Linked DNA regions of Homo sapiens. The protein of the gene in region 1 interacts with the protein of each later gene in a pairwise test. Each region holds a gene or a part of one and is shown in the gene's direction. Other genes may lie near its edges. The genes, in order: USP54, CCDC13, FOXI1 and SMYD1.

Evidence for each region.
Region 2: the proteins of USP54 (region 1) and CCDC13 interact in binary tests that used the Homo sapiens proteins (3 or more experiments, as listed by UniProt).
Region 3: the proteins of USP54 (region 1) and FOXI1 interact in binary tests that used the Homo sapiens proteins (3 or more experiments, as listed by UniProt).
Region 4: the proteins of USP54 (region 1) and SMYD1 interact in binary tests that used the Homo sapiens proteins (3 or more experiments, as listed by UniProt).

The regions. Positions count from the first base shown.
Region 1 is NC_000010.11:73,511,324-73,518,355, reverse strand, and holds part of USP54 (ubiquitin carboxyl-terminal hydrolase 54), read left to right. Parts: intron 1-608; coding exon 609-1,981; intron 1,982-7,032.
Region 2 is NC_000003.12:42,770,254-42,778,010, reverse strand, and holds the start of CCDC13 (coiled-coil domain-containing protein 13), read left to right. Parts: upstream 1-4,757; 5' UTR 4,758-4,835; intron 4,836-6,933; exon of another isoform or gene 6,934-7,399; intron 7,400-7,757. UniProt on the Homo sapiens protein: Required for primary cilia formation and promotes the localization of the ciliopathy protein BBS4 to both centriolar satellites and cilia.
Region 3 is NC_000005.10:170,101,698-170,108,905, forward strand, and holds the start of FOXI1 (forkhead box protein I1), read left to right. Parts: upstream 1-4,199; 5' UTR 4,200-4,260; coding exon 4,261-4,834; intron 4,835-5,219; exon of another isoform or gene 5,220-5,364; intron 5,365-6,351; coding exon 6,352-6,914; 3' UTR 6,915-7,208. UniProt on the Homo sapiens protein: Transcriptional activator required for the development of normal hearing, sense of balance and kidney function.
Region 4 is NC_000002.12:88,105,825-88,112,824, forward strand, and holds part of SMYD1 (histone-lysine N-methyltransferase SMYD1), read left to right. Parts: intron 1-500; coding exon 501-664; intron 665-2,546; coding exon 2,547-2,715; intron 2,716-4,529; coding exon 4,530-4,688; 3' UTR 4,689-7,000. UniProt on the Homo sapiens protein: Methylates histone H3 at 'Lys-4' (H3K4me), seems able to perform both mono-, di-, and trimethylation. Acts as a transcriptional repressor. Essential for cardiomyocyte differentiation and cardiac morphogenesis.

The DNA.
Region 1 (7,032 bases):
CATATTGCTTTGGGGAAACATCTCAGTGACTAATAGAACAAAATCCAGATTATAAAAACATATTTGAAATGGTTAATTTCTGTGTATTCCCATGAGCCCAAATCACCCTGTATTTTGTAAATGTGGCCTCATAGTTCCTTTGGCCGGGCTGCCTCTCAGGACCCCAGGTAGGACTTGCCTCCCTGTATAGCATCCTGGATTTTTGCTGTTTGGTATGAGTGATTTTCAGGCTTTGCTTACCTTCCATGTCATCTGCATGTGAGACTAGCTGATTTTGTTTCCTAATTTGCAAGTAGAATGTGATTGGAATGCGACTTCACAGGTAGTGAAGAATATTGGCAAGGGCTCCACTTAATGTTACTGTGCAACTTTGGTGAGGGTGTTTAATAAAGAGGATTAACGTTACCTATTTACCTGAGTGTGAGCTGACCATGTGCCTTTTCTTTTGTGATCCTCTGAACTACTGACTCTACTTGTGCTTGTCTTTCTGTTTATTTTTACCATTCCCTGTGTGAATAGCTAGAAATGGGAATGGAATGTTGAGTTCTTTCTGTAAGTGTTCCTGTCAGTCAAGGCAGCTTATGACTAGCTCTCTCCATTTGTTTCAGTGAACAGCCTATCCCGCTCCAAGTATTGTTAAGCCAAGAGGCCCAACTGGAATCCGGCATGGATACAGAGTTTGGGGCCAGTTCTTTCTTCCATTCACCTGCTTCCTGCCATGAGTCACACTCATCACTATCTCCAGAGTCATCTGCCCCACAGCACAGCTCCCCCAGTAGATCTGCCTTGAAGCTTCTGACTTCGGTTGAAGTAGACAACATTGAACCCTCTGCATTCCACAGGCAAGGTTTACCTAAAGCACCAGGGTGGACTGAGAAGAATTCTCATCATAGTTGGGAGCCATTGGATGCCCCAGAGGGTAAGCTGCAAGGCTCTAGGTGTGACAACAGCAGTTGCAGCAAGCTCCCTCCACAAGAAGGAAGAGGCATTGCTCAAGAACAGCTGTTCCAAGAAAAGAAGGATCCTGCTAACCCCTCCCCGGTGATGCCTGGAATAGCCACCTCTGAGAGGGGTGATGAACACAGCCTAGGCTGTAGTCCTTCAAATTCATCAGCTCAGCCCAGCCTTCCCCTGTATAGAACCTGCCACCCCATAATGCCTGTTGCTTCTTCATTTGTGCTTCACTGTCCTGATCCTGTGCAGAAAACTAACCAATGCCTCCAAGGCCAAAGCCTCAAAACTTCATTGACTTTAAAAGTGGACAGAGGCAGTGAGGAGACCTATAGGCCAGAGTTTCCCAGCACAAAGGGGCTTGTCCGTTCTCTGGCTGAGCAGTTCCAGAGGATGCAGGGTGTCTCCATGAGGGATAGTACAGGTTTCAAGGATAGAAGTTTGTCAGGTAGTCTAAGGAAGAACTCTTCCCCTTCTGATTCTAAGCCTCCTTTCTCACAGGGTCAAGAGAAAGGCCACTGGCCATGGGCAAAGCAACAATCCTCTCTGGAGGGTGGGGATAGACCACTTTCCTGGGAAGAGTCCACTGAACATTCTTCTCTTGCCTTAAACTCTGGGCTGCCTAATGGTGAAACTTCTAGCGGAGGACAGCCCAGGTTGGCAGAGCCAGACATATACCAAGAGAAGCTGTCCCAAGTGAGAGATGTTAGGTCTAAGGATCTGGGCAGCAGTACTGACTTGGGGACTTCCTTGCCTTTGGATTCCTGGGTGAATATCACAAGGTTCTGTGATTCTCAGCTTAAGCATGGGGCACCTAGGCCAGGAATGAAGTCCTCCCCTCATGATTCCCATACGTGTGTAACCTATCCAGAGAGAAATCACATCCTTTTGCATCCACATTGGAACCAAGACACAGAGCAGGAGACCTCAGAATTGGAGTCTCTGTATCAGGCCAGTCTTCAGGCTTCTCAAGCTGGCTGTTCTGGATGGGGGCAGCAGGATACCGCCTGGCACCCACTTAGCCAAACAGGTAAGAATGCAACCAGGGGTTGGGGGGAGGGGGGAGGATCATATAAAAGCTGAAAGCAGGGAAAGATCAGAAGGGAGTGTTCTATACAGATACTATCCCCAGCTTAGTAGGAGGTAATAGAACTTTTGACTTTACTCAGAAAGCCTTCAGGACAAGACCTAGACATTTTTCTGGCTAGAGTGGAGGAAGGGGCAGAATTACCACTCATAGGCAACTTCCCTCCTTCTAAAGTAAGAGATTACTAAGTATTTGCCCATGGCTTCTCCAGTATGCTGTGCTAAAGAATGGTTCAGGGCCGGGCACGGTGGCTCACTCCTGTAATCCCAGCACTTTGGGAGGTCGAGGCGGGCAGATCACAAGGTCAGGAGATCGAGACCATCCTGGCCAACATAGTGAAACCCCTTCTCTACTAAAAATACAGAAAATTAGCCGGGCGTGGTGGTACTTGCCTGTAGTCCCAGCTACTCGGGAGGCTGAGGCAGGGAAATCACTTGAATTCGGGAGGCAGAGGTTACAGTGAGCTGAGATCGCACCACTGCACTCCAACCTGGGTAACAGAATGAGACTCCGTTTCAAAAAAAAAAAAAAAAAAAGAATGGTTCATAGGTGTTTGAGAGTGATTCAGCATGACAGCATGAAATGGAGGGAGGCTGAGAGGAAAATATATTCTTCTATGGCTTAGAATCCCAAGATTCAGCCTCCAGGTCTGCTTTGCAGTAGGATGTCCATATGCTCAGTGTGGACATTTCCAGATCATACTGAACCAGCAATATCAAGACCTTCCTGATCCCTTTAGGAAAAGTCAAGTTTGGTGTTCAAGGAATTTTTAATGTACTATATGCCTACAGGGTAGCCACTGACTGAGATAATACAGAGTGAAGAGTAGAGCCTGCACCTGAAGTGCACATCATAGTCAGTTCTGGAAATTGAAGACATGAAGAATGTTTGTAACTTACATTGATGCACTTAACTCCAAAGCCTGAACTATTTTCCTGATTCCAACATTAACTCTCAGTATAAATTTGGACAAGTCACTTAATATCCCAGGGCCAAGGTTTTACCTGTAAAATGAGAGAACTGGCTTTTTTTTTAAAAAAAGATATGTTCTAACTCTAAAATGGCATGTATGATTCTGTGAAATTGAACTTGGAGAACTTTTCCTTAGCTTGGCTGTGACAGTTTCTGTAATGGTGCAGGTTCCTTGCATGCTGACAACCAACATATAATTACAGTTGAGTAAGTGTTTATTGAGTACTTACTGTGTTCTCCAGAGCCTTTGAGGGGAATACCACATAAATATAAGATTTGATTTTTTATTCATTTTTTTTTTTTTCTGAGAAGAGTTGCACTCCTGTTGCCCAGGCTGGAGTGCAATGGCGTGATCTCAGCTCACTGCAACCTCCGCCTCCCGGGTTCAAGTGATTCTCCTGCCTCAGCCTCCCAAGTAGCTGAGATTACAGGCGTCCACCACCACACCTGGCTAACTCTTGTATTTTTAGTAGAGACAGGGTTTCACCACGTTGGCCAGGCTGGTCTTGAACTCCTGACCTCAGGTGATCCCCCCGCCTCAGCCTCCCAAAGTGCTGGGATTAAAGGTGTGAGCCACCGTGCCTGTCCTAAGACTTGATATTAAGATACATTTCTGAGGATCCGTATCCTAATGTAGATTTTACAATAACATTTACTAAGGTGGTCTTTGATAGGACTGGTTGATATGGGAAGAATCTAAAGAATAAGGGAAAGCTGGAGTCTGCCTCAGTGAGCTTTCTATCTAAGGAAGCAAGAATACACAAATAATTTTTTTTTTTTTTTGAGACAGAGTCTCGCTCTGTTGCCCAGGCTGGAGTGCAGTGACGTGATCTCAGCTCACTGCAACCTCTGCCTCCTGGGTTCAGGCCACTTCTCCTGCCTCAGCCTCCCGAGTAGCTGGGATTACAGGTGTGTGCCACCACGCCCAGCTAATTTTTATATTTTTAGTAGAGATGGGGTTCACCATGTTGGCCAGGCTCATCTCGAAGCCCTAACCTCAAGTGATCCACTCGCCTTGGCCTCCCAAAGTGCAGGGATTATACACGTGAGCCACCGTGCCAGGCCACAAGTAATTATTTTAAGAATAATAAGGCCAGGCATGGTGGCTCATGCCTGTAATCCCAGCACTTGGGAGGCGGAGGTGGGCGGATCATGAGGTCAGGAGATTGAGACCATCCTGGCTAACATGATGAAACCCCGTCTCTACTAAAAATACACACAAAAAAATTAGCTGGGCACGGTGGCCCACACCTGTGATCCCAGCATTTTGGGAGGCCGAGGCAGGTGGATCACCCAAGGTCAGGAGTTCAAGACCAGCCTGGCCAACATGGTGAGACCCTGTCTCTATTATAAATACAAAAAATTAGCTGGGCATGGTGGCGGGCACCTGTAATCCCAGCTATTTGGGGGGCTGATGGCAGGAGAATTGCTTGAACCCAGGAGGTGGAGGTTGCAGTGAACTGAGATTGTGCCACTGCATTCTAACCTGGGCGACAGACCAAGACTCTATCTCAAAACCAAAAACAAAAAAAAATTTGTATTACCCAAAATAGCAACATTTTTCATTGCAGGTAGTTTGAAAATACATAAAGTATCAAAAATCACTGATAATCTCACTCTTAATGTTTTCATAAGCTTACCTTTGGTTTTCATTTTTATACACATGTACTATATAGTTTTGTTTTTGCAAAAAGCAGTATCCTTTACACTATATGTATACAGTTTAGTATCATGACTTTCTCATGTTATATCTGTGAGCATTTGCTGTAAAAACTACCTTTAATGGTTATAAAGTGTTTCATATGAATGTACTGTAATTTATTTCTTCAACCATCCTACTATTGTTGAATATTTAGGTTACTTACAATTTTTTTTTTTTTTTTGAGGCAGTCTCGCTCTGTCATCCAGGCTGGAGTACAGTTGCACAACCTTGGCTCACTGCAACCTCCGCCTCCCGGGTTCAAGCAATTCTTCTGCCTCAGCCTCCCGAGTAGCTGGAACCATAGGCGTGTGCCACCAAGCCTGGCTAATTTTTTGTATTTTTAGTAGAGAAGGGGTTTCACCATGTTGGCCAGGCTGGTCTCGAACTCCTGGCCTCAAGTAATCCGCCTGCGTCAGCCTCCCAAAGTGCTGGGACTATAAAGTGAGAAGTGACTATAAGGTGAGCCACCGCTCCTGGCTTACTTGTAATTTTTAATAACATAGTACTGTGTTGAATATCTTTGCACTTAAGTGGTCACGTTTCTCATGAGCTCCTTAGAATAACCTTTTAGAAGACTAATAACTAGTTGAATGTTATAAACTTTTTTTTTTTCATTTTTGAGACAGGGTCTCATGTTGTTGTCTTGGCTGGAGTGCAGTGACATGATCACAGCTCACTGTAGCCTTGACCTTCTTGGCTCAAGAGATCCTCCCACCTCAGCCCCTTGAGTAGTTGGGACTACAGGCATGCACTACCATACCTGACTAATTTGAATGTTATAAACTTAAAAAAAATATTGATACATACTGGCCAGTTAGCTTTGAAGAAGACTATACTTCTGAAAACAGTATGAAAGAGTACTTACTGACCATTAATTTTTTTGTCTAGTAGTGTAAAGAAACAAATTTTTAAAAATCTATCTAGTAGTCAATCTATTCTCAATATATTTATCAAATCAAGCGGAGCATGATGACTCATGCCTGTAACCCCAGCTACTTGGGAGACTGAGGCAGGAAAATCACTTGAGGCCAGGAGCTTCAGGCTGTAGTGTGCTATGAGCACATGCCTGTGAACAGCCACTCTCCTCCAGCCTGGGCAACACAGTGAGACCCTATCTCTTAAAAAAAAAAAGTAAAATCAAACTAGTCTTTATTTTTGTTAGAGTCCTTGGTTTAAAAACTGAGTCCTTAAGAAGTGACATGACAGGCTGGGTGCAGTGGCTCACACCTGTAATACCAGCACTTTGAGAAGCCAAGGTGTGAGGATCACTTGAGCCCAGGAGTTCAAGACCAGCTGGGCAACACAGTAAGATCCCCATCTCTACAAAGACTGAGAAAATTAGCTGGGTGTGGTGGTGCGGGTCAGTAGTCCAGCTACTTGGGAGGCTGAAGCAGGAGGATCAACTGAGACTGGGAGGTTGAGGCTGCGGCGAGCTGTGGTCATGCTACTGCGCTCCAGCCTGAGCAACAGAACAAGACCCTGTCTCAAAAAAAAGAGGAGTGATATGACATAGAATAAAGAAGTGATCAGATAGAATTAATTGGGAAGTAGATGAAGGAAAATGCCAATTAGGATTCACATATGAAAAAATATAATTTGGCCAGGTGCGGTGGCTCACGCCTGTAATCCCAGCACTTTGGGAGGCTGAGTCGGGTGGATCACCTGAGGTCAGGAGTTCGAGACCAGCCTGACCAACGTGGTGAAACCCCATCTCTACTAAAAATACAAAAAAAATTAGCCGGGTATTGTGGCACGTGCCTGTAATCCCAGCTACTCGGGAGGCTGAGGCAGGAGAATTGCTTGAACCCAGGAGATGGAGGTTGCAGTGAGCCGAGATCACGCCACTGCACTCCAGCCTGGGTGACAAGAGTGAAACTGTCTCAAAAAAAAAAAAGAAAAAATATAATTTGAGAGTTCTTTATCTTATTGTAAAACATTTATTAAGCACCAAATTACATTACTTTTTAAAATTTATTTATTTTTTGAGACAGAGTCTCGCTCTGTTGCCCAGGCTGGAGTGCAGTGGCACAACCTCAGCTCACTGCAACCTCCGTCTCCCAGGTTCAAGCGATTCTCGTGCTTCAGCCTCCCAAGTAGCTGGGATTACAGGCATGTGCCACCACACCTGACTAATTTTTGTATATTTTGTAGAGACGGGGTTTCACCATGTTGCCCAGGCTGGTCTCAAACTCTGAGCTCAAGCAATCCACCTGCCTCAGCTTCCCAAAGTGCTGGGATTACAGGTGTGAGCCACCACGCCCGGCCACCAAATTAGTTTTTCAAAAAATGCTAAAAAAAAAAAAATGCTTTATTGATATGT
Region 2 (7,757 bases), on another chromosome or scaffold:
AGAATAACTTCTGGTTGGATGTGGTGGCTCACACCTATAATCCTAGCACTTTGGGAGGTCAAGGCAGATCGCTTGAGCCCAGGAGTTCGAGATCAACCTGGGCAACATGGCGAAACACCATCTCTACAAAAAATACAAAAATTAGCTCGGTGTGGTGGTGCGAGCCTGTGGTCCCAACTACTTGGGATGCTAAGGTGGGAAGATAACCTGAGCCCAGGTGGTTGAGGCTGTAGTGAGCTGTCATTGCACGACTGCATTCCAGCCTGGGCGATAGAGCGAGACCCTGTCTCAAAAACAAACAAAAACCCCCAAACCTCTCTACTTGCCCCGTTCTTCCACTCCCTAGCATCCTCTATTCTACTTTCTGTCTCTATGAATTTGTTCATTCTAGGTACCTAATATACATGGAATCGTACAATATTTGCCATTTTGTGTCTGGCTTATTTCACTTAGCATAATGTTTTCAAGGTTCATCCAGAATTCAGAATTTCATTCTTTTCTAAGGCTGAATATTCTGTGGAGTATATATACCACCTTTTGTTTACTCATTCATCTGTTGAAGGTTGCTTGGGTTGTTTCTACCTTCTGGCTATCGTGAATAATGCTGCTATGAACACTGGCATACAATTACCTGTTTGAGTCCCTTCTTTATTTTTTATTATTACTTTTTTTGTAGAGACAAGGTCTCGCTATGGTGACCAGGCTGGTCTCGAGTTCCTGGCCTCAAGCAGTCCTCTACCTCAGCCTCCCAAAGGGCTGGGATTACAGGCATGAGACACTGTGTCTGGCCAAGTCCCTTCTTTCAAATCTTTCGGGCATATATTTAGAAGTGGAATTGTAAATCATACGGTAATTCAATGTTTAACTTTTTGAGGAACCACCAAACTGTTTTCTACAGTGGATATACCATTTTACATTCCCACTAGCTCTACATAAGGGTTCCAAATTCTTCACATCCTGGCAAACACTTGTTATTTTCCATTTTTTGGATAATATCCATCCTAATGGGTGTGAAATGGTATCTCGTGGTTTTGGTTTGCATTTCTCTAATGGTTAGTGATGTTGGGCATGTTTTCATGTGCTTATTTGCCATTTGTATATCTTCTTTGGATTAATGTCTATTGAAGTCCTTTGCCCATTTTTGAATTGGGTTTTGTTGTTGAGATAGCTAACCTGATTTTTGACAAAGGTGCAAAAGCAATTCAATGGAGGAAGCATAGCTTTCCAACAAATGGTGCTGGAACAACTGGACACCATAGGCAAAAAAGCAAAAAAGAACCTTGATCTAAATTTCATACCTTTATATAAAAATTACATCAAAATAAATCATGGGCATAAAACTCTAACACTTTTATAAAAATGGGGGGAAATCTTTGGGACCCAGGGCTAGGCAAAGAGTTCTTTCTTAGACTTGAAATCAAAAGCACAATCCATTAAAGAAGGAATTGATAAATTGGACCTTGTCAAAATCAAAGCCTTTTGTTCTGTGAAAGCCCAAGTGAAGAGGATTAAAAGATGAACTACAGATTCGGAGAAAGTATTTGCAAACTACGTATCCAACAACGGACTAGTATATAGAATATATAAAGAATTCTCAAAACTCGACAGTTAGAAATTGGGCAAAAGACATGAACAGACACTTCACCAAAGAAAATATACAGATGACAAATAAGCACATGAAAAAGATGTTCAATATCATTATCCGTCACGTACATTAGAACCACAATGATATCACTACACACCTATTAAAATGACTAAAATAAAAATAGTGACATCAAATGCTGGCAAGGATGTGAAGAAACTGTGTCACTTAAACATTTCTGGTAAGAATGTAAAGTGGAACAGTCACTCTGGAAAACAGGTTTGGCAATTTCTTCTAAAACTAGATATGCAGTTACCATACTACACAGCAATTGCACTCTTGGGCATTTATTCCATAGGAATGAAAACTTATGTTCACACAAAAACCTATACATGAATGTTTATAGCAGCTGAATCATAATTGCTCCTAACTGGAAACAACCCAGATGTCTTTCAGTGGGTAAATGGTTAAACAAACTGGTACATTCATACTAGAACTACTCAGCAATAAAAAGGAATGGATTATTGATACACACAACAACTTGGATGAATCTCCAAGGAATTGTTCTGAGTAAAAAAAAAAAAAAATCCATCCTAAAAAGTGTACATGCTGAGTTATTTCATTTATATAACATTTTTGAAATGACAAAATTTTAGAAATGGAGGGCAGACTGGTGGTTGTAAAGGGTTAGGGACTAGGGCAGGAGGAGGGAGGGAAGTGTACATAGTCATAAAATCACAACAGAGAGATCCTTGTGATAGTATTTGGTATCTTTTTTTTTTTTTGAGACAGAGTCTCACTCTTGTCGCCCAGGCTGGAGTGTAATGGCGCGATCTCAGCTCACTGCAACCTCCACTTCCTGAGTTCAAGCGATTCTCATGCCTCAGCCTCCCAAGTAGCTGGGATTACAGGCAAGCACCACTATGCCTGGCTAATTTTTGTTATTTTTAGTAGATATAGGATTTTGCCATGTTGACCAGGCTGGTCTTGAACTCCTGGCCTCAAGTGATCTGCCTGCCTCAGCATCCCAAAATGCTGGGATTATAGGCGTGCATGAGTCACCATGCCCGGCTAGTATTTGATATCTTGATGGTCATGGATACACAAACTGACACGTGATAAATCAAAAGAAAAGTACAGTTAAATTGGAGAAATCTAAGAGGAGTAGGTTGTATCGATGTCAATATCCTGGTTGTAATATTATACTAAAGTTCTGCAAAATATCATTGTGGAGAACTGGAAAAGTATACAGGGGATCTCTATTATTTTTTACAACTGCATGTGATTCTATAAAAATCTCAATATAATTTCAAATTAAAAAGCAAAAAACAAAGGGCAGTGTCCTACAGATACTTCTGGCTAGAGAAACAAAGTGGGCTGGAATTAACAAACATCTGTATACTGTACATGAGGAAATACTGGTGACCCAGATTGGATTCGCCAGCTTCTTGGATGATAAAATGTCAAGCTTATAAACTAAAGAAAATTCTCAAAAGAATTTTGGGCAGAAAAAAAAAATGGCATGAGAGCCTTAGTGGTGACCGTGGAAAAGTAACAAACCTAGAGGAAAATCATCCCTGCTTTTTAAAAAATGGGTTACTGCAAAAATGATATCCTCGTCAAAAATAATCCTTGGATTGCTGGAGCAAATGTTACCCCTTTCCCAAACTTTCTAATACATACATTCTAGAATGTCGGTTCTGAAATTCTCTTGCATCCTTAATTTTCTCACAGCATGTTCTTATTTTAATGAAAACCTGGCTTTCTGCTAGGATCCATGCTTTCCAGAAGCCCTCTAAGTAGACCTGGCTATTCCTTTTCCTATGCCACATAGTCCCATCGTGGTCATGAGGCAAACGAATGATACTCCCCACTACACACACCATTTAAAAAAAACCCTAATCCTTTGAGGCTCACATCTACCTGAATCCTACTCTTTATCCTGTCTCTCTTTGCTGCCACCTGTATATTATACGTCTCCCACCCTCAGCTCACCAGGCAGCAATTGGAGACCAACGGGAAAGATCCATTTTTCCTTTATCAGGAAACTTCGGGTTTATACCTGCAGTGCTGATGGCAGTCTAGTGCCGTATCTTATGTATGCATGTCTATGGGATGGGTATTCATTCACCTTATGAGGAAAAAAAATAGAAAAACAACTGCCAAGGTTTTCAAATTATGAAGTCCTGGATAAATATTTGGGCAGGAGCTGTGGCTCACGCCTGTAATCCCGGCACTTTAGGAGGCCAAGGTGGGCGGATCACCTGAGGTCAGGAGTTCAAGACCAGCCTGGTCAACATGGTGAAACCCCGTCTCCACTAAAAATAAAAAAATTAGCCAGGTGTGGTGGCGGGTGCCTGTAATCCCAGCTACTCAGGAGGCTGAGGCAGGAGAATCGCTTGAACCTGGGAAATGGAGGTTGCAATGAGCTGAGATCGCACCACTGCACTCCAGCCTGGGCGACACAGCGAGACTCTATCATAGATAGATAGATAGATTAGATAGATAGATAGATAGAAAGAAATCTCCCTTGAATCATCTTTCCTAGAAATTTGCCTCCCACCCCCATATTGCCCTGAAATATAGTAGTGTCTTACATTGGAAGGTGCCATTTAAAAAAAAAAAAACAAGTATTTTCCTTTATGAAAATAAACGATGTTCATTATTTTAAAAATTCTCTAAAGTGTAAAAATAAAAACACAGCACTGCTATTCCACCACCCAAATATAACCACTTTTAATATTTCTATTTCGGTCTTGTTTTAGTGCCTAGTTTGAAATAAACACAACTTTATTTATTTAGCATTGCTATATTGCGTCCTGCTTCCTTCACTCACCATCATAACATGGCCTTTCCCCACACTGTTTTACATTTTTCAAATATATCTGAATGGCTACTTTAAATTTCATGGTGAGATCGTTCGCTTTTTAACTCCCCAACAGGAGAGCGGAATGGGCATCTCTGTGCAGAACGTTTGGTCCACAAAACTTTTTTAAAAATATACTCCAGAAGATTTAAAATCTCCAGCGCACTCGAGATCGTGCTCGCTTGGATCCAGCCCAGCGCGCCATCAGCGCCTCTGTCACTTTCAGAACTCTTGGCGCCCCCTCGGCCCCCGTAGAGTAGCGTTGAAAACGCGCAAGTGACGTCGCTTGTTTCCCTGGTGACGGTTGCCAGGGCAGCGCGTGTCGGCGTCCGGAGGAGGTGACCTAGCCGCCGCGGTCCTAGAAGGGAGAAGTGGAGAGAGACCGCTGTAAGTGCCGGGGAGAGCGGAAGGGCCCGGGCCGGAGCTGGGAAAGCCCGCAGCTGCCGGGGGCGCGGAACCGAGCCCGAGCGCAACCCCAGCCCGAGCGCGCTGCCACTGGCCGGGCGCTCACCGCGTGCTGGGCGCCCAGCGAGGACTCTTCCCCTTCGTCCTTTGAATCTTCACACACAGCCCTCTTCTAACCCAGGCAGACGCTTATTTTCCATGCAGTACATGGGTTAATGAGGCGCAGAGGGTGGGTCGCCTGCCCCAAAGTCATAGCGTAGATGGCACAGTCAGAACTCGAACTCAGGTCCGCCTGACAAGCGCTGTTTGCTGGGCCTCTGCCACTGGGCCCTCTCGCACCGCACTGAAAGATGCGACCCGACGGCGTGCACTTCCGCATCTCCCAGTTCCCCTTCCAGGCCCAGCCCCCACAGGACTGGGGACTCGCAAGAGGGAGTTCCCCTCCAAGCCCGGAGTCCAGCCCTGAGAACCAGAGCATCACCCCGCTCCCATCCCAAACCCATCCCTACGAAGATGCTAGCAGTGCACAGAGCGCCAAACTAGGCATCCGTGGGCGGCCTCCCCACACCTCCAGGCCCCTAGACTGTTGTTGAGAATACTCGAAAAGAACACAGTAAAAGAAAAGAAGAAAGAGAAGGAGAGGGGAAGAGAAAAACAATGAAAAAAGTGGCAGGCCGATGGGGCAAGGGGTCTCAATCCTTCCTCACTGGTCCCTGTCACCTATGGTCCCATATCCTGTGGGATCTTGCTTCCTCATAGGACTCCAGAGTGCATGCCACTCTTCCTACTCCCTGGCTCTAAGTCCTACCTGAGCCAAGAGTTCTTTCCATGCAGCTCTAGCCTTTACTTTATTTTTTTTATTATTACTTTTTTTTTTTTTTTTTTTTTTTGACGGAGTCTCGCTCTATCGCCCAGGCTGGAGTGCAGTAGCGCGATCTTGGCTCATTGCAACCTCTGCCTCCCAGGTTCAAGCGATTCTCCTGCCTTGGGCTCGAGTAGCTGGGATTACAGGCGCCCGCCACCATGCCTGGCTAATTTTGGTATTTTTAGTAGAGATGGGGTTTCACCATGTTGGCCAGGCTGGTCTCAAACTCCTGACCTCAGGTGATCCACCCACCTCAGCCTCCCAAAGTTTTGGGATTACACGCATGAGCCACCACGCCCGGCTTAGCCTTTACTTTTAAAAGAAAATAGACTTAAAGCAGATTTTTAGAAGCATTAAACAAAAAACAGTTCCTTTATGTATTCCGTATTCCCATTTCCTCTGTTGTTAACATCTTACACATTGCATTGGTGTGGTACATTTGTTATCATTGATACAACTATACTGGTATGTTATTACTAACTAAAGTCCATAGTTTACATTAGAGTTCATCTGTTGTTGTTGTTGCTGCTGCTGTATTGAGACAGGGTCTCACTTTGTCACCCAGGCTGGAGTGCGGTGGCATGATCATGGCTCACAGTAGCCTCCAACCCCTGGGCTCAAGCAATCCTCCCACCTCAGCCTCCTGAGTAACTGGGAACACAGGCACATGCCACCATGCCCAGCTAATTTTTTTATTTTTTGTAAAGCTATGGTCTTGCTATGTTGCCCAAGCTGGTCTCAAACTCCTGGCCTCAAGTGGTCCTCCCACCTTGGCTTCGTAGAGTGTTGAGATTACAGGTGTGAGTCATCACACCTGGCCAGTGTTCATTGCTTAAGGTTGCACAGGTCTACAAGTTTTGCTAAATGTGTAATGCTGTGTATCCACCAGTAAAGTATACAGAACAGTTTCACCTCCCCAAAAACCCCCTAGGCTTTACTGTTCATTGTTCCTTCCCACCAACCCCTGGAAACCACTGATATTTTTCATTTAGAAGGGATTTACAATCACTGGTATCTTTTACTTCTCTGTAATTTTGCCTTTTTCAGAATATTATACAGTTTGCAATTATACAGCATGTAGCCTTTTCAGACCGGCTTCTTCACTTAACAATACACATTTAGGTTTCTTTCATGTCTTTTCGTGGCGTGATAGCTCATTTCTTTTCATCACTGAATAATATTCACCGGTATGAGTGTACCAGGTTATCTACTCACCTATTGAAGTACATCTTGTTTTTTTCTCATTTTTGGTAATTATGAATAAAGTTATTGAGTCCAGAATTGTGGGTTCTTGGTCTCACTGACTTCAAGAACAAAGCCGCAGACCCTCGCGGTGAGTGTTATTACAGTTCTTAAAGGTGGCGTGTCTGGAGTTTGTTTCTTCCTTCTGATGTCAAGATGTGTTCAGAGTTTCTTCCTTTTGGTGGGTTCATGGTCTCGCTGGCTCAGGAGTGAAGCTGCAGACCTTCGCGGTGAGTGTTACAGCTCTTAGGGTGGTGCGTCTGGAGTTGTTCATTCCTCCTGGTGGGTTCGTGGTCTTGCTGGCTTCAGGAGTGAAGCTGCAGACCTTCACGGTGAGTGTTACAGCTCATAAAAGCAGTGTGGACCCAAAGAGTGAGCAGTAGCAAGATTTAGTGCAAAGAGCAAAAGAACAAAGCTTCAACAGTGTGGAAGGGGACCTCAGCAGGTTGCCACTGCTGCCTGGGGCAGCCTGCTTTTATTCTCTTATCTGGCCCCACCCACATCCTGCTGATTGGTCCATTTTACAGAGAGCCCATTGGTCTGTTTTACAGAGAGCTGATTGGTCCGTTTTGACAGGGTGCTGATTGGTGCATTTACAATTGCTGAGCTAGACACAAAAGTTTTCCACTTCCCCACTAGATCAACTAGATACAGAATGTCAATTGGTGCATTTACAAACCTTGAGCTAGATACAGAGTGCCGATTGGTGTATTCACAATCCCTTAGCTAGACATAAAGATTCTCAAAGTCCCCACCAGATTAGCTAGATACAGAGTGCCGATTGGTGCATTCACAAA
Region 3 (7,208 bases), on another chromosome or scaffold:
CATGTCCTCGGGGGCATGGCTCCCAGATGGCAGGATTTTCCCAAGGGGAAAGCAAATGGTTGAACGTTGCTTGGAGGAGGCTATGATGCCAGGCCTCCTGCCCAGAACCCTCTCCCGTGTCAATATCTGGCCTCAGGTACCCTTGCATTCATCATCATCCTCATGATCTGCAGCTTTTGCAGATCATGGGCTCCACATTTTACTTACACATTTATATTACTTTTTCCTTCCAAATCCACATGAGACGGATTCTAGTTTCATCCTCACTTTATTGATAAACAAACGGAGGCCTTGTAAGATTAAGAAACTTGGCCAAGATCACAAGGCTACCAAAGAGCGAAGCTGGGATTTGAACCCAGTTCTATGCAATCCTCAGGCCCACGTGTTCCATGTTTTACTGCTTTGTCCCAAATGTCACAATTTGGGGTTCAGAATATACAGAATATATGGTCTTTCATGTCCAAGAAGGCCTCCCTCTGGACTGTAGTATGCAAACTGCATCCCAAGCATTCCCTAGGCAGGCTCAGGCCCTCACACACCCAACTCTTACTCTTATTTTTTATTTATTATTCTATTATTATTTCCCTGAAGCTGGGCAGAGCGCATCTTCTCAGGTTTGAATTTTCACTTCTAGAAATTTCAAAAAGTTTAAAATAATTTCATTCACAAAATGACCCTAGTTGTTAGAGACATTTGATTCTTTTCCCGGAGGCCCTAGGATGGTCAAGGCGGGCTGCAGGACCATAACTCTCAAACCTCACTGCGGGGTGGGAACAGCTAGCTCCTGTTGTCCACCCCAAGGGCTATAGCCAGTGTTCCTACAAATCTGGAATGAAGGGTCCTCTGGGATGCTTTGGACACCCTGGCCCGAAGGTTTAACCTTGTGACCAAGTGCAGAGAAGCTGTGATCCCCAGCTACTGGGCTCTGGGTGCCAGAGGCTCCCGGTGAATAAGGCCTCCTAAGACAGGCCAGGCTTTCTCTGATCTACTGGGGGAAAGGAACTAGGGTCCACATGCAGCTAGGGAGACCCAGTTCAGCATTCCTCAGAAAATGCCGCTAAAGCAGGAGACGCCAAAGTGGGGCAGAGTGGGTCCTGACCCAGCCATGAACTTGTGTGACTCTGGGCCCTCTCTGATTGTCATCTGTAAATGTAGAGTCTGGTTATAGAATCGGTGTCTACGCTGAATATTTCTCCCTCTGTTTTTGCATCATAATCCCTGTCACATCCCTGCTGCATGCTGCATGCGATTAACTCTCAGTGTAGCAAACATAGGTGTGCTTGATTGTACACAGCAAATGTATACTGACTATAATCTATAATAACTAATATTTATTGAGTGAGCCTGTATGTGCCATGTGAAATGATTGACATTGATTACACTGACTACCTCACTGAATGCTCACTGCAACTTCGTGAGTTAAGTACTGGCATCGTTCCCTTTTTCACCAGAAAACACTGAGGCTGAGAAAAGCTAGATCACTTGTCAGGGCCTGCAGTGATCCCAAGGTTGGGATTTGCAATACCAAGGTTGGGATTTGCAGCCAGGTCCTCCTGATCTCAGAGCCTGTGTTTGCTACGTCTCTGCTATATTATCTGTTTTTAGCCTTTCAAATTTAACCCCAAAAGCAAGTCACCTGTGTGCTTGCCTTTCTCTAATCATTTAAATCAGAAACTACGGAAAAACAACAACAAAAATTGCATCCAATTCTTCATCCAGAAATAATAATTGGCAGTTTGATATTTATGTTTCTAGATTTCATATACAATTATAAATACATATTTGTACTAAAAAAAAATCTCATGGCATTTTGCAACCTGTTTCTCCAAATAATATCATGAGAACATAAACATCTTTTCATATCATTAGTTATTTTTCCAGAATCTATTTTTCATAGTTGCATAATATTACATCATTTGGATGATACACTATTTAGCCAATCCCCTACTGTTGGGCATTTAGATTAGTTACAATTTTTCACCGCTATAAACAATGCTGTGGTGGGCATCCCTGTGGCTAATTCTTTGCTCTGTTGAATTTTGTAAGATAAGCTTTGAGAAGTGAAATTGCTAGGTTAATTGTAAGGCTTTGAGTCTGTACTAGGGGACTCCAATGTGACTGCTCTTTGAAAAGTCAGGGCTCCACCTTCAGCAAGCCAGGCCTCCTCATAGAGAAACTGTACCAAACAAAAATTCTGCCTCTGGCTTGGCTCTGCAAAGTGTGCCTTACTCTAAGCCTCATCTGGACAGCCAGAGCCTTTCAGAGAGTCACATTTCATCACTGTTTTATGGTGGGGACAGGTTCCTCTGGGCCTAACATGACCACTCCTACCCAGTTACCTGGAACTCATCCTCTGGGCACCAATATGCTGAAAATGAAGTTTATTCAGTCTCATTCATGTTTGCCACATGTGTCCCCACATAACCATGAAAGAGGAGCAGAGAGGGGAAGAATTCTTTGGGGAGCATCCTCTCCAGTTGGGACAGTCAGTGACCTCTTTCTCTTGCCTCAAAGAAAGTAGGGCATGCAGGAAGTGGGAGGAAGCTGGATGGGAAGAAGAAGGAGGCAAGCGGGAGCGAGGTGGTGACCAGAGGGGCTGACCCCAACTTTTCTCCCATCTGCTTCATCACAGAGAGAAGTCTCAGCTGCTACCAGAACCTGGTCAGGGGCCAGCGCCTACCCTCTGAGTAGGGAGACCACCACCCATGGCCCAAGCTGAGGGCCTGACCTGGGGCACCAGGGGAGGCTGGGACAAGATGGAGGATGGAGCCCAGATAGGAGAGGAGCTGGCTGAGCCACAGGGAGAAGCCAGCAGGGGCTGCAGCTCCTGCTTCTGGAGCCTGAGGGAGAGAGAGAGAGGACGCCTGGGGCATGGTGAGTCGGGCGCTCTCCTCGTGCCCTGGCTGCCTCCATGCCAGGGGCCTCTGCGAGCTGAAACATGAAAGGTCTTTGGATCAGAGAGGAGCTGGGAGCCTGCTTGCCCTGCAGCTGGAAAGAAACTTGAATTGTTCAAGTTCTCTCACTTTTCCCTGAAGACTGATTCCCCATTTTCCCCTTTTGCTATTATTTTTAAGAGCCTTGCTGCTCTCCAGGCAAATTCTCAGGTTCTCTGCCCGTCTGCAGCATGTATGCATATGCGTGTGTGTGTGCGTGCGTGTGTGCGCGTGCGTGCGTGGGCGTGTGCGCGTGTGTGGGCGTGCGCGTGTGCGTGTGCGCGTGTGTGCGTGTGCGCGTACGCGTGTGTGCGTGTATGTGTGTGTTGGGGGAGGCTGCGGTGCCTATGACTGGTTGCCCCCTTGAACCCCACCAGAAGCCAGCCCAGGCCCCTCTGCGCCCTCTTCTGAGTCTCCAGGGCCGGTTCTCTCCTGGCAACTCCAGAAAGTGCCTCCTCACCTCAAAAGACCAAGAAACAGGGTTTCTGATAAAGTGTCCCACCCAGTCCCGGCTGGGGCAGTTGGTTAGAGAATGAGGGGACATTGGGGGGAAGAGGAGGGAGAATGAGGGGATGGGAAGAGAGGCGCAGAGAAAATGAGAGGTGGAGAGAAAGGGACAGAGTGAAAGAGAAGGAGAAAGGGGAGAAGCCGGGAAGACAATGAGAATGGAAGCGAGAGATGGAAGTGGAAAGAAGAACTGGAAGCCTAGAGACAGAGGGAGAGAGGGAGAGAGGGAGGGGGAGAGAGAGAGAGAGAGAGAGAGAACGGGAATGAGCAGCTGTGATGTGGCCAGATCAGTTCATAGAAAAGAAACACAGTTCAGAGCAGAAGGGAGGAAAGAAAATAAGAAGGAAAGAAACAGAGAATGAGATGCAGAGAGGAGAGGAGGGAGAGAGAGAAGGAAACCGAGGTGGGTAGAAAAATGTGACGAAAGGGAAGGACAGAAAAAAAAATGAGAGAAGTAAGACAGAATAAAGGAGAAAAAGAAGAAGGGAATCATGAGGATGGTGAGAAAAGACAGGAGAGAAAGCCGGGAGAGAGGATAGAGGGGCGTTCTCGCTGCGCTGCGTGTCAGCTCTGGTAAGCCGTCTAGCATGTCATTAGTGGGGACCTGAGGCGCCAGCGGGAAAGTCCCCTCCCCGTGGGCTGGAGGCTGAGGGAGGGCGGGCCCTGGGCTGGGATCCACAGGCAGGTGGCCGCCCCTGGGTGGGGCCGCCCGGCCAAGCCCTAGGGGTATAAGTGGGAGGCCGGGCCTGCTGAGCACCTGTCAGGGGCAGCTCCGGGGTGCAGGTGCCAGGCAGGTGGCTCCGGCCAGCCCAGCCCCAGCATGAGCTCCTTCGACCTGCCGGCGCCCTCCCCACCTCGCTGCAGCCCCCAGTTCCCCAGCATCGGCCAGGAGCCCCCCGAGATGAACCTCTACTATGAGAACTTCTTCCACCCACAGGGCGTGCCCAGCCCTCAGCGGCCCTCCTTCGAGGGGGGCGGCGAGTATGGGGCCACCCCCAACCCCTACCTCTGGTTCAACGGGCCCACCATGACCCCGCCACCCTACCTGCCCGGCCCCAACGCCAGCCCCTTCCTGCCCCAGGCCTATGGAGTGCAGAGGCCGCTGCTGCCCAGCGTGTCGGGGCTTGGGGGGAGCGACCTGGGCTGGCTGCCCATCCCCTCGCAGGAGGAGCTGATGAAGCTGGTGCGGCCACCCTATTCCTACTCGGCTCTCATCGCCATGGCCATCCACGGGGCACCCGACAAGCGCCTCACTCTCAGCCAGATCTACCAGTACGTGGCCGACAACTTCCCCTTCTACAACAAGAGCAAGGCCGGCTGGCAGAACTCCATCCGCCACAACCTGTCGCTCAACGACTGCTTCAAGAAGGTGCCCCGCGACGAGGACGACCCGGGTAAGGAGGCTTTGAGTGTGGGGGGTGTCCCCAAGGAAGACTCACTTCCTTCCTCCCCAAGACCCCATTCTAGAAAGTTCTGACTAGGGCTGTGCCCCCCAAGACTGGGGGATGCTACCAGGCAGGACAGAGGGGAGCTCAGCAGTGAAGGAGAGCATGGGCCTGGGGGAAGATTTGGGTTTCAGCCCTGGCTGTGCTCCTGCCCAGTCAGTGACCTCTGGCAGGTTAGACCTCAGAGCCTCAGTTCCCTCATCGGAAAACCAGGGATAGTGACAGCATCTGCTTTGCAGGCTGCAGTGGAGGTGATGAGATAATGTACACAAGGTTTTAGGTGTTATCAAGCGCTTAATCGCCTGCAGTAATTACGATTCATCTGCATCTCCAGCACCCAGCACATAGAAAGTCTTTGGTGAATGAATGACTGGACCAACCAAAGCCCAAGGGCATCCCAAGACTGCCAGGAAGAGGATCTGACCTGGGTTAAACAGCCACTAATGGCCCATTTTGCTGCCTGCCTTGTTTCTACTTAGGTAACCTCCTTTAACCCGAAGACACCCCTGCAGGGTAGCTCTTATGAAACCCATTCTACAGATTAGGAAAATAACACTCAGAGGTGACACAGAATGAAGTGATAGTGATGGAGCTTGAATTTGAACTCAGTTTTCTCTAACATCAGAAATTGTGAGCTTTTCCTTTTCAACGATGCATTTCTAAAACTCAGAGACCTGCAGAGAGGCATGTATTAAATACTCATGCATCCATTTCCCAGAATTAAAGTCCACTTTTGTTCCACCGCAGGAAGCCAAGGTATAGCTCAAAGGAACCCCAACTCTGCCCCATTTGAGGGTGGCAAACACCAGGCCTGTTTGTCCCCAGAAGAGGGCAAGTGTCCTGTCCAAGGACTGCCATCACCCTCAGGCTGAGAGACGGTAGCAGGAAGAGTTCAGGCCTTCCCTCGGGAAGGTACCTCCCAGCTGCAACGCTCCTTTCCATATCCGGTGTGGATCCTTTCTCAGTGGGCCTGAGGAAGACAGGGGCAATGGGCCCACTTTTCAGACTAGAAAACAGGTTCTTCCAAAGCCCCTCAGTCAGTGAGGAGCAAAGCCAGGACTCAAGTCTGTCTTCAGACTCCAAGCCTACGGCTATTAGGGAGTCCCAGAGTTTTCCTGAGTCTTCTTTTCCTTCAGCATTGAAAGCCCTCCAACCCCCAACCCCCAAATCCCTCAGCATCCCTGCTCCCAGTTCTTCATCCTTCTTAAAGAGACCTACATTGCAAACTCCTTAATGCTCATGCCTCTCGGCTGCAGTCCCAAAGGGCCCTGTCATGGGCTGCTTAATTAAAGATGGAGGTGGTGTGGTTCATCAGTTGATGGAATTCCTCCATTTCTCAGTCCCTGCCTGTCGGTCTCTGTCTTCCTGCATCTGTCACCTTGGCTTTTAGTTTATGACAATAAGGAGGAACAGAAGCAAAGCATTTTGTCCACCTCTCTATTTACCCCCTTTCACTTTTGTATCAGGCAAAGGGAATTACTGGACCCTGGACCCCAACTGTGAGAAAATGTTCGACAATGGAAATTTCCGCAGGAAAAGGAAGAGAAAATCAGATGTTTCCTCTAGCACAGCCTCCTTGGCCTTAGAGAAGACAGAGAGCAGTCTCCCGGTGGACAGCCCCAAGACCACGGAGCCTCAGGACATCTTGGATGGAGCCTCACCAGGGGGCACCACCAGCTCCCCAGAGAAGCGGCCCTCCCCTCCCCCATCAGGCGCCCCTTGCCTTAACAGCTTCCTTTCCTCTATGACAGCCTATGTGAGCGGGGGGAGCCCCACGAGCCACCCCTTGGTCACACCAGGACTGAGCCCTGAGCCCAGTGACAAGACGGGGCAGAACTCACTGACCTTCAACTCCTTCTCCCCGCTCACCAACCTCAGCAACCACAGCGGTGGGGGTGACTGGGCGAACCCCATGCCCACCAACATGCTCAGCTATGGAGGATCTGTGCTCAGCCAATTCAGCCCTCACTTCTACAACAGTGTCAACACCAGTGGTGTCCTCTACCCCAGGGAGGGCACCGAGGTCTAGGTACAGAACAGCTCCTGAGCCAGGTGGACATGCCAGAGAGAAAAGCAGTAGAGGTCCTCCATGCCAGCCCCACGGTGGTCCATGACTGCGGAACTGCCCAGACATAAGCAGGAGCCTCCGAGGAATCCACCCTCTTTCTAGAACACTGGTTAAGGCTTCTGTTTATCACACATAGGCCCACACACAGACTCACCAACTTTGCAATAGAAATACTGGTGCCTGCAGAGCAGCACTAACAGTGGCAGGTGCTGTACTAGGCTCTGTACTGGCCACACTTACTATTGACAGTCACCC
Region 4 (7,000 bases), on another chromosome or scaffold:
CTACTCAGGAGACTGAGGCAGGAGAATCGCTTGAAGCTAAGACGGGGAGGTTGCAGTGAGCTGAGACTGAGCCACTGCACTTCAGCCTGGGCAATGGAGTGAGACTCTTGTCTCGAAATATATATATATATTTGACCTGCAGTGGGTTGAATCCATGGATGTGGAACTTGTGCATATACAGATCTGACTGTACATATATGTGTGTGTTTGTGTGTGTGTGTATGTATAGCTTTCATAGCTTCCTGCTACCTATTGATTTTGGAAACTCCTCGCTGTGCTGCATCTGCCATGTCTCACACCATTACCCTTCCCATTCTTACACCTTAGCCAACAGGACCACTTTGCAATTCATACCCCAAACCTGTGCTTTCCCACCTCTGTCAGCAATTGCCCCAGTCTTAAAAAGAATGATTGTCTGGTATCACCATGATGGTCGCGTATGTGAATTAAACGTGTGCTCTGGTGCAATGGTAATGGGCAGGGCCTCTGTCTCACTCTAGGTTGTGAAATTATGCCGGGAGTGCCTGGAGAAGCAGGAGCCAGTGTTTGCTGACACCAACATCTACATGCTGCGGATGCTGAGCATTGTTTCGGAGGTCCTTTCCTACCTCCAGGCCTTTGAGGAGGCCTCGTTCTATGCCAGGAGGATGGTGGACGGCTATATGTAGGTGACGATTCTAGGTCTCAGATAGTCTCCTGGAAGTGTGTGTATTCCAGGGATGGCAAATAGATGGCACATTTACTGGTGCCTCTCCCTCCTATACCCACAGCAGGCGTCAGTAATCCATCATGGTTCTCTTTTTGACTGAGTCTTTTTATCATGGTGCTCCAGTGTTAATGACCAATCAGAGTTTGTGCTTGAGATGAAACCTATTTGTCATCCCTGGTCTTTCCCAAATTCTCCAGCACATCTATCACTTGGGTGGCATCTTCTGCTTTTGACTTCCTTCAGGCTAACCCCAGCTTGATTTTAAGTGATTGGACCCTGCCCTCCACCCTGTAATCAACACAGGCAAGTCTAGGAGCTTTTATTTATTTATTTATTTATTTTTAAAAGAGCCATCAATCACTTTGCTTAAAAATTGTAAAATTCTGGCCAGGCGCGGTGGCTCACGCCTGTAATCCCAGCATTTTGGGAGGCCGAGGCGGGAGGATCACGAGGTGGGGAGATAGAGACCATCCCGGCTAACATGGTGAAACCCCGTCTCTATTAAAAAATACAAAAAATTAGTCAGGCATGGTGGAGGGCACCTGTAGTCCCAGCTACTTGGGAGGCTGAGGCAGGAGAATGGCGTGAACCTGGGAGGCGGAGCTTGCAGTGAGCCTAGACTGCGCCACTGCACTCCAGCCTGGGCGACAGAGCAAGACTGTCTCAAAAAAAAAAAATTGTAAAATTCAATTCCCTTGCCTTCCATCTGCCAATACCCTCTCTTGCTTTCTGTGTTTATGTTGTCATGCAAATTTGTGTTTCTGGCCAAATAAGTTGACACACGTTCATTTCTTTGAGAGGATGTTAGTCATAAACAAAATGTAGATAAACTGTACAACATGCTAAGGAAGCCCTGCAAAAGGGTGCCAACCAGGTGAAAATACAATGCTGTCTCAAAAAGGACATTTAAATTATTTTTTTCTCCCTTGACCTTCCTACCACTTTTTGGGGAGACGTCTGAGGTACTCCCAAATGCTGTGAGCTTCCTGTGCTCAAGCTCAGATAATATGGAGTCTACAGAGGCAGGGAGGCCTCCTTGAGCTGCAGTGGGCTCCTCCCAGTTCGAGCTTCCCAGCGGCTTTGTTTACCTACTCAAGCCTCAGCAATGGCGGGCGCCCCTCCCCCAGCCTCGCTGCCGCCTTGCAGTTTGATCTCAGACTGCTGTGCTAGCAATGAGCGAGGCTCCATGGGTGTAGGACCCTCCGAGCGAGGCGTGGGATATAATCTCCTGGGGTACCATTTGCTAAGACCATTGGAAAAGCGCAGTATTAGGGTGGGAGTGACCCAATTTTCCAGGTGCTGTCTGTCACCCCTTTCCTTGGTTTGGAAAGGGAATTCCCTGACCCCTTGCACTTCCCAGGTGAGGTCATGCCTTGCCCTGCTTCGGCTTACACTCGGTGCGCTGCACCCACTGTCCTGCACCCACTGTCCGACAATCCCCAGTGAGATTAACCTGGTACCTCAGTTGAAAATGCAGAAATCATTCGTCTTCTGCGTCGCTGACGCTGGGAGCTGTAGACTGGAGCTGTTCCTATTCGGCCATCTTGGCTAGAGTCCCCAAGCTCAGAAAGTATGATCCTGGTCCCTTTTTCTCACAAGGAGTTGGCTGGGCAGCCCAGGCCGGAGTTTCAGCTGTCACAGCCTCACTGTGTAGAATGTTTGGCAACTTGTTCCATATCTCTGTGCCTCAGTTCCCCCTTGGCGGCTACAGAAGCCTTGCAGTGCTGAGGGGAAGACAGATGGGCTTAATCAACAAGGGCACTTTATACATTATTAAATTAAGTGCAGATATAAGGGTGATTGGTATGATGTATAATTATCTGCTATGCTCCCACAGGAAGCTCTACCACCCCAACAATGCCCAACTGGGCATGGCCGTGATGCGGGCAGGGCTGACCAACTGGCATGCTGGTAACATTGAGGTGGGGCACGGGATGATCTGCAAAGCCTATGCCATTCTCCTGGTGACACACGGACCCTCCCACCCCATCACTAAGGACTTAGAGGCAAGTAGCGTCTTGAGGCTGGTGTTCCCTTCCTGGCCTGAGCTTTCTGAGGATGGGAGTGTGAGTTCAGGTGGACTCTGCTTTAGAAAAGTCCACATACTCCCAGCTAGACAAAAGGGAACTCAGAAACGCTTTAGCCCACTACCCTTGTGTGTTAGACTGTTCATGTTACCCTAAATGAATACCTGAGACTGGGTAATTTATAAAGAAAAGAGGCTTATGTTGGTTCATGGTTCTGCAGACTGTATAGGAAGTGTGGTGCTGGCATCTGCTTCTGGTGAGGGCCTCAGGAAGCTTCTAATCATGCCAGGAGGGAAAGGGAGCCAGTGTGTCACCTGATGAAAGAGGGAGCAAGAGAGAGAGGCAGAGGTGCCAGGCTTTTTTCAACAAGCAGATCTGGTGTGAACTCAGAGCGACAACTCACTCCTACCAAGTGGGTGGCACTAAGCAATTCACGAGGGATCTGCTCCCATGACTCAAGCACGTCTACCAGGCCCCACCTCCAACACTGGGGATCACATTTCAATGTGAGATTTGGAAGGGACAGATATCCAAACCATATCACCTTGCTTCACACATGAGGAAACTGAGGCCCAGGGAAGGAGGACAATCTGTCCATAGTCACATAGCGAGCTAATGGCAAAGCTAAGACTTGAAGCCTGAGTCTGTTGAATCATAACACCCCAAGCCTGGACTGAGGAAGCGTAAACAATGGGGTGTGCATGTGTGCGTGTGTGCATGCACACAGCCATTTATATTAGAAAGTATTCTGTGTAACATGGAGTGGAGTTAGGGATCACAGGCTCTGGAATCAGACCTCCAGGTTGAGTTCCAGCTTCACCGCTTTCTGGTTGTGTGATTTTGCAAATATTGAATGTATGGCTGTCAGTCTCCTCATCAGTAAAATAGGGGGAAAGGATAGGGTTGTGATGCGTGTTCATGAGTCAATGTGTGAAATGCACTTAGTGCCTGGCAAATGGTGCTGCTGATGTCCTTGGTGCTTTGAAAAGCTGGTTTATTTGAGAGTGACAGGGCTGTCCTCAGACAGTACAGTCTAGGGAAGGTGGACAGACTTTGGTGTTATAAAATGTAGGATGACTATGACATTTAGGACTGGCGTGGTCTCAGACATGGATGTCCTCTTACTATTCAGATCCCAGGTTTCCTCATCTATAAAATGGAAATAATATATTAGCCCCTTAAAATTGGCAGGAGGACCAAGTGAGGGGCAGAGAAGCGGACTAACTAGCTTTATGTTTAGGGTACCGAGCCTGTCAAAGGCAGAGCCTTTGTCAATTTTACTCACAGCTGTATCCTCGGCCTCTGAATGCCTGGCCCTTAAGAAGTATTTCTTGAATGGACATGTGGGAGGATGAGGGCTCTTCTGTGTGTCACACACTGTCATCTTCCCAACCCACGGTAAGGTATGAAGCCACAAAATGGGTGAGAAAACTGACGGCTGAAGCGATTATGTCTCTTGCCTGAGGTCCCACACTAGTATCTGCAGGGGCCAGGGTTCAAATCCAGGTCCCCACTGGGCAGTTCCTGGGAACAAGCATTCTTTTCTGAGAACGGTTCCTTCAGCTACTCTCTCAGGGTTCTGACTCCCTCTCCCTGACAAAGTGGGCCCACTGCCAGGACATTAGGCCCTTGATGAATGAGTGTGTGTGTGTGTGTGTGTGTGTGTGTGTGTGTATTCTGAGGGGGTAGAGTTGAATCTCCGTGGCTGGAAATAATTTACCCCAAGGTATATCAGAGACCAGCATGTCCTAGGGGCTTGCTATCACTGTTTACGGTGTATCTGTGTCCCACAGGCCATGCGGGTGCAGACGGAGATGGAGCTACGCATGTTCCGCCAGAACGAATTCATGTACTACAAGATGCGCGAGGCTGCCCTGAACAACCAGCCCATGCAGGTCATGGCCGAGCCCAGCAATGAGCCATCCCCAGCTCTGTTCCACAAGAAGCAATGAGGACTGCCCAGTGGAGGAGGGGCGATGTGGCTGGGGAGCTAGGGAGAGACTCTGGAGGTGGTGGGTCTCTCGGGAGACCCCTAATGAGGAAGTTGAGGTAATGCTTAACATTGTTGCTGTGAGAATTTACTGCCCTATGTTTCCCAGAGCCATTTTGGCTCAATTCAAGTCTATTCAATTCAAGTTAACTCTAGCCCAGCCCAGATCAACTCCTCCTACAAATATTATTGGATGATAGGCCCTAGAACCCAATAAAGGAGCTCCAAATGTCGTTGGGTGGGGAAGCAAAATGTAGAGAAACATTTAAAGCACACTGTAATAATAAATGCAATTATAAACTATATGGAGGAGGGTGCAGAGGAGGGAATGTGTCTGGTGTGTGATGTGTGTGTGTGCAGTGGGGGTATCACAGAGAGTATGACATCTGAGTTGAGGGTAGCAGGTGCCTGGAGTCTCAGGTGGCTGCTCACCCATCTGTGCAGGTGTCTCTGGGGCTGCTGGTCTCACCTGTGGTCTGCAGTAGACACAATTGGCTGAGCAGGATATGTGATACTGTGTGGTTGGTGTGGAGTTTTGAAGAAGGGGCTGTGTTTGGGCCACGTAGGCTCTACTCAGAGACCTGAAACCACTTCAGAATGGTGCATATGTCGAAAGAGCTGGCTGGGGGCCTTGCCCAAACCAACTGAGGTCTTAAAGTCCAGGGAAAAAAAGTCTGGGTTCCAACTAGAATTCTAGAAATATTTCTAGAACACACAGAGAGGGAATAAGTCCCTCTATCACCCTTATTACCAAGCCTTGTGGTTCCCTGTGATTTTAGATAATGTCTGATATTTTTCTGGCTATTTGCCTAGTAGGATTTAAAAAATATTTTCAAAGTGAAGCTGAGAGAGAATCTTGGAAACACACATACCTGTTGATCATGGGCCCTGCAGAATTGGCCCTTGGGGGCTTTATTTGGTTACATGTGCCTGGGTGGTCTTTACCAGCTTAGACTCTATCATGGGCCCCCATGAAGCTCCATTCTCAATACTGAATAATTATTACTTCCCTTGTTGAGTTTCTTTTTCTGTCATGCCCTGGGGGCTTCTGCTCTTCTCACCAGAAAGAACATTTGAATCTGGATTCTTGTACACCTGGGTTAGACCCTGTTCAGAGGTGTGGCCAATTTATCCCGATCTCCTGGAAGGCTGTTGTGATTTCCATCTAAGAAATGAGGGTCTTGAGAATCAACCAGTCCCAAGATTAGCCTGTTATCCTGTTATCTACTGAGACCCCAAATTTCTCACCAATGTTTTGGGAGATCCTGGAAAAGATCCCTTCAGTTTGGGGTGTCACCAAGACTTCTACACAACCCAGGACTACCATTGACCTCAGAGCTGTACCCCACATCTTGAAGTAAATTGATCCCACCAGGTCCCACGTTTGTTATCTCTGCCTAAATGTTAGCTTCTCCATCCTCACCACATGATGACCTGCTGTGTCCCTCTGAGCACTACCCAGTGGCTGAAAACTCTGCAAATGGGCCACACTTTTGCAAAATACTTGTATCTGACACTTAGGTCTTGTTTGAAGAATTTCCTTTCTGGAAGGTTTTACAAGAAGACTGATAGTCTTTCAAGCCCCCACATCACAGGCTTAGGGACGGCACTAACTTTCTCCCAGGGATCTAACTGGCTAGTTCAAATTATCACTCTTTTACCTTCATATAAAATGTCTCCCCCAAACCTTTTTCCCTTCTTTGTCATTGTTATCTGCTAAGCCCCTGGTCATTTCCCCATATTCGTAGTCTTTTTTTCCATCCTATCTTTCTAATATTTGTTGTCTTTAACAAACTGTGTTCTGTGTCTGTGCTCCTCCTTCCCTCTCAGACCACTGGAATGCAAGTCCTTCTTCCCTTTGGAATGTACTCTGGATCCCTTCCCCTGCTTTGACCCCCAGACTTTGCTCCATCTATTATTGCTTCTCCATCCTGGATCCTTGACATTTGTCACCCCACTGGCCTTCTCAGGTGCAATCAGTAAAAATGCTGAGAACTCTTGGATCTTAATCTTCATGACTGAGTTTTTTTTAGTTGTATAGTTATCATCTGCCTTTCTTCACTTTGCATTTCTTCTTGAATCCATTGCAGATTGACTTCCACTCCCACTCCTTCACTAAAAGGGCTCTTACCAAGATCAAATCTAATGGGTACATTTTAGTTCCTATGTGATTTGGCCTTTCGATGTCAATCATCACTCCCAGCCATTGATTTTGGTGACCCACTTCCCTGTGATGATCTTCTGATCTAGTTTCTCAGGTTCCTTCGCTGGTCC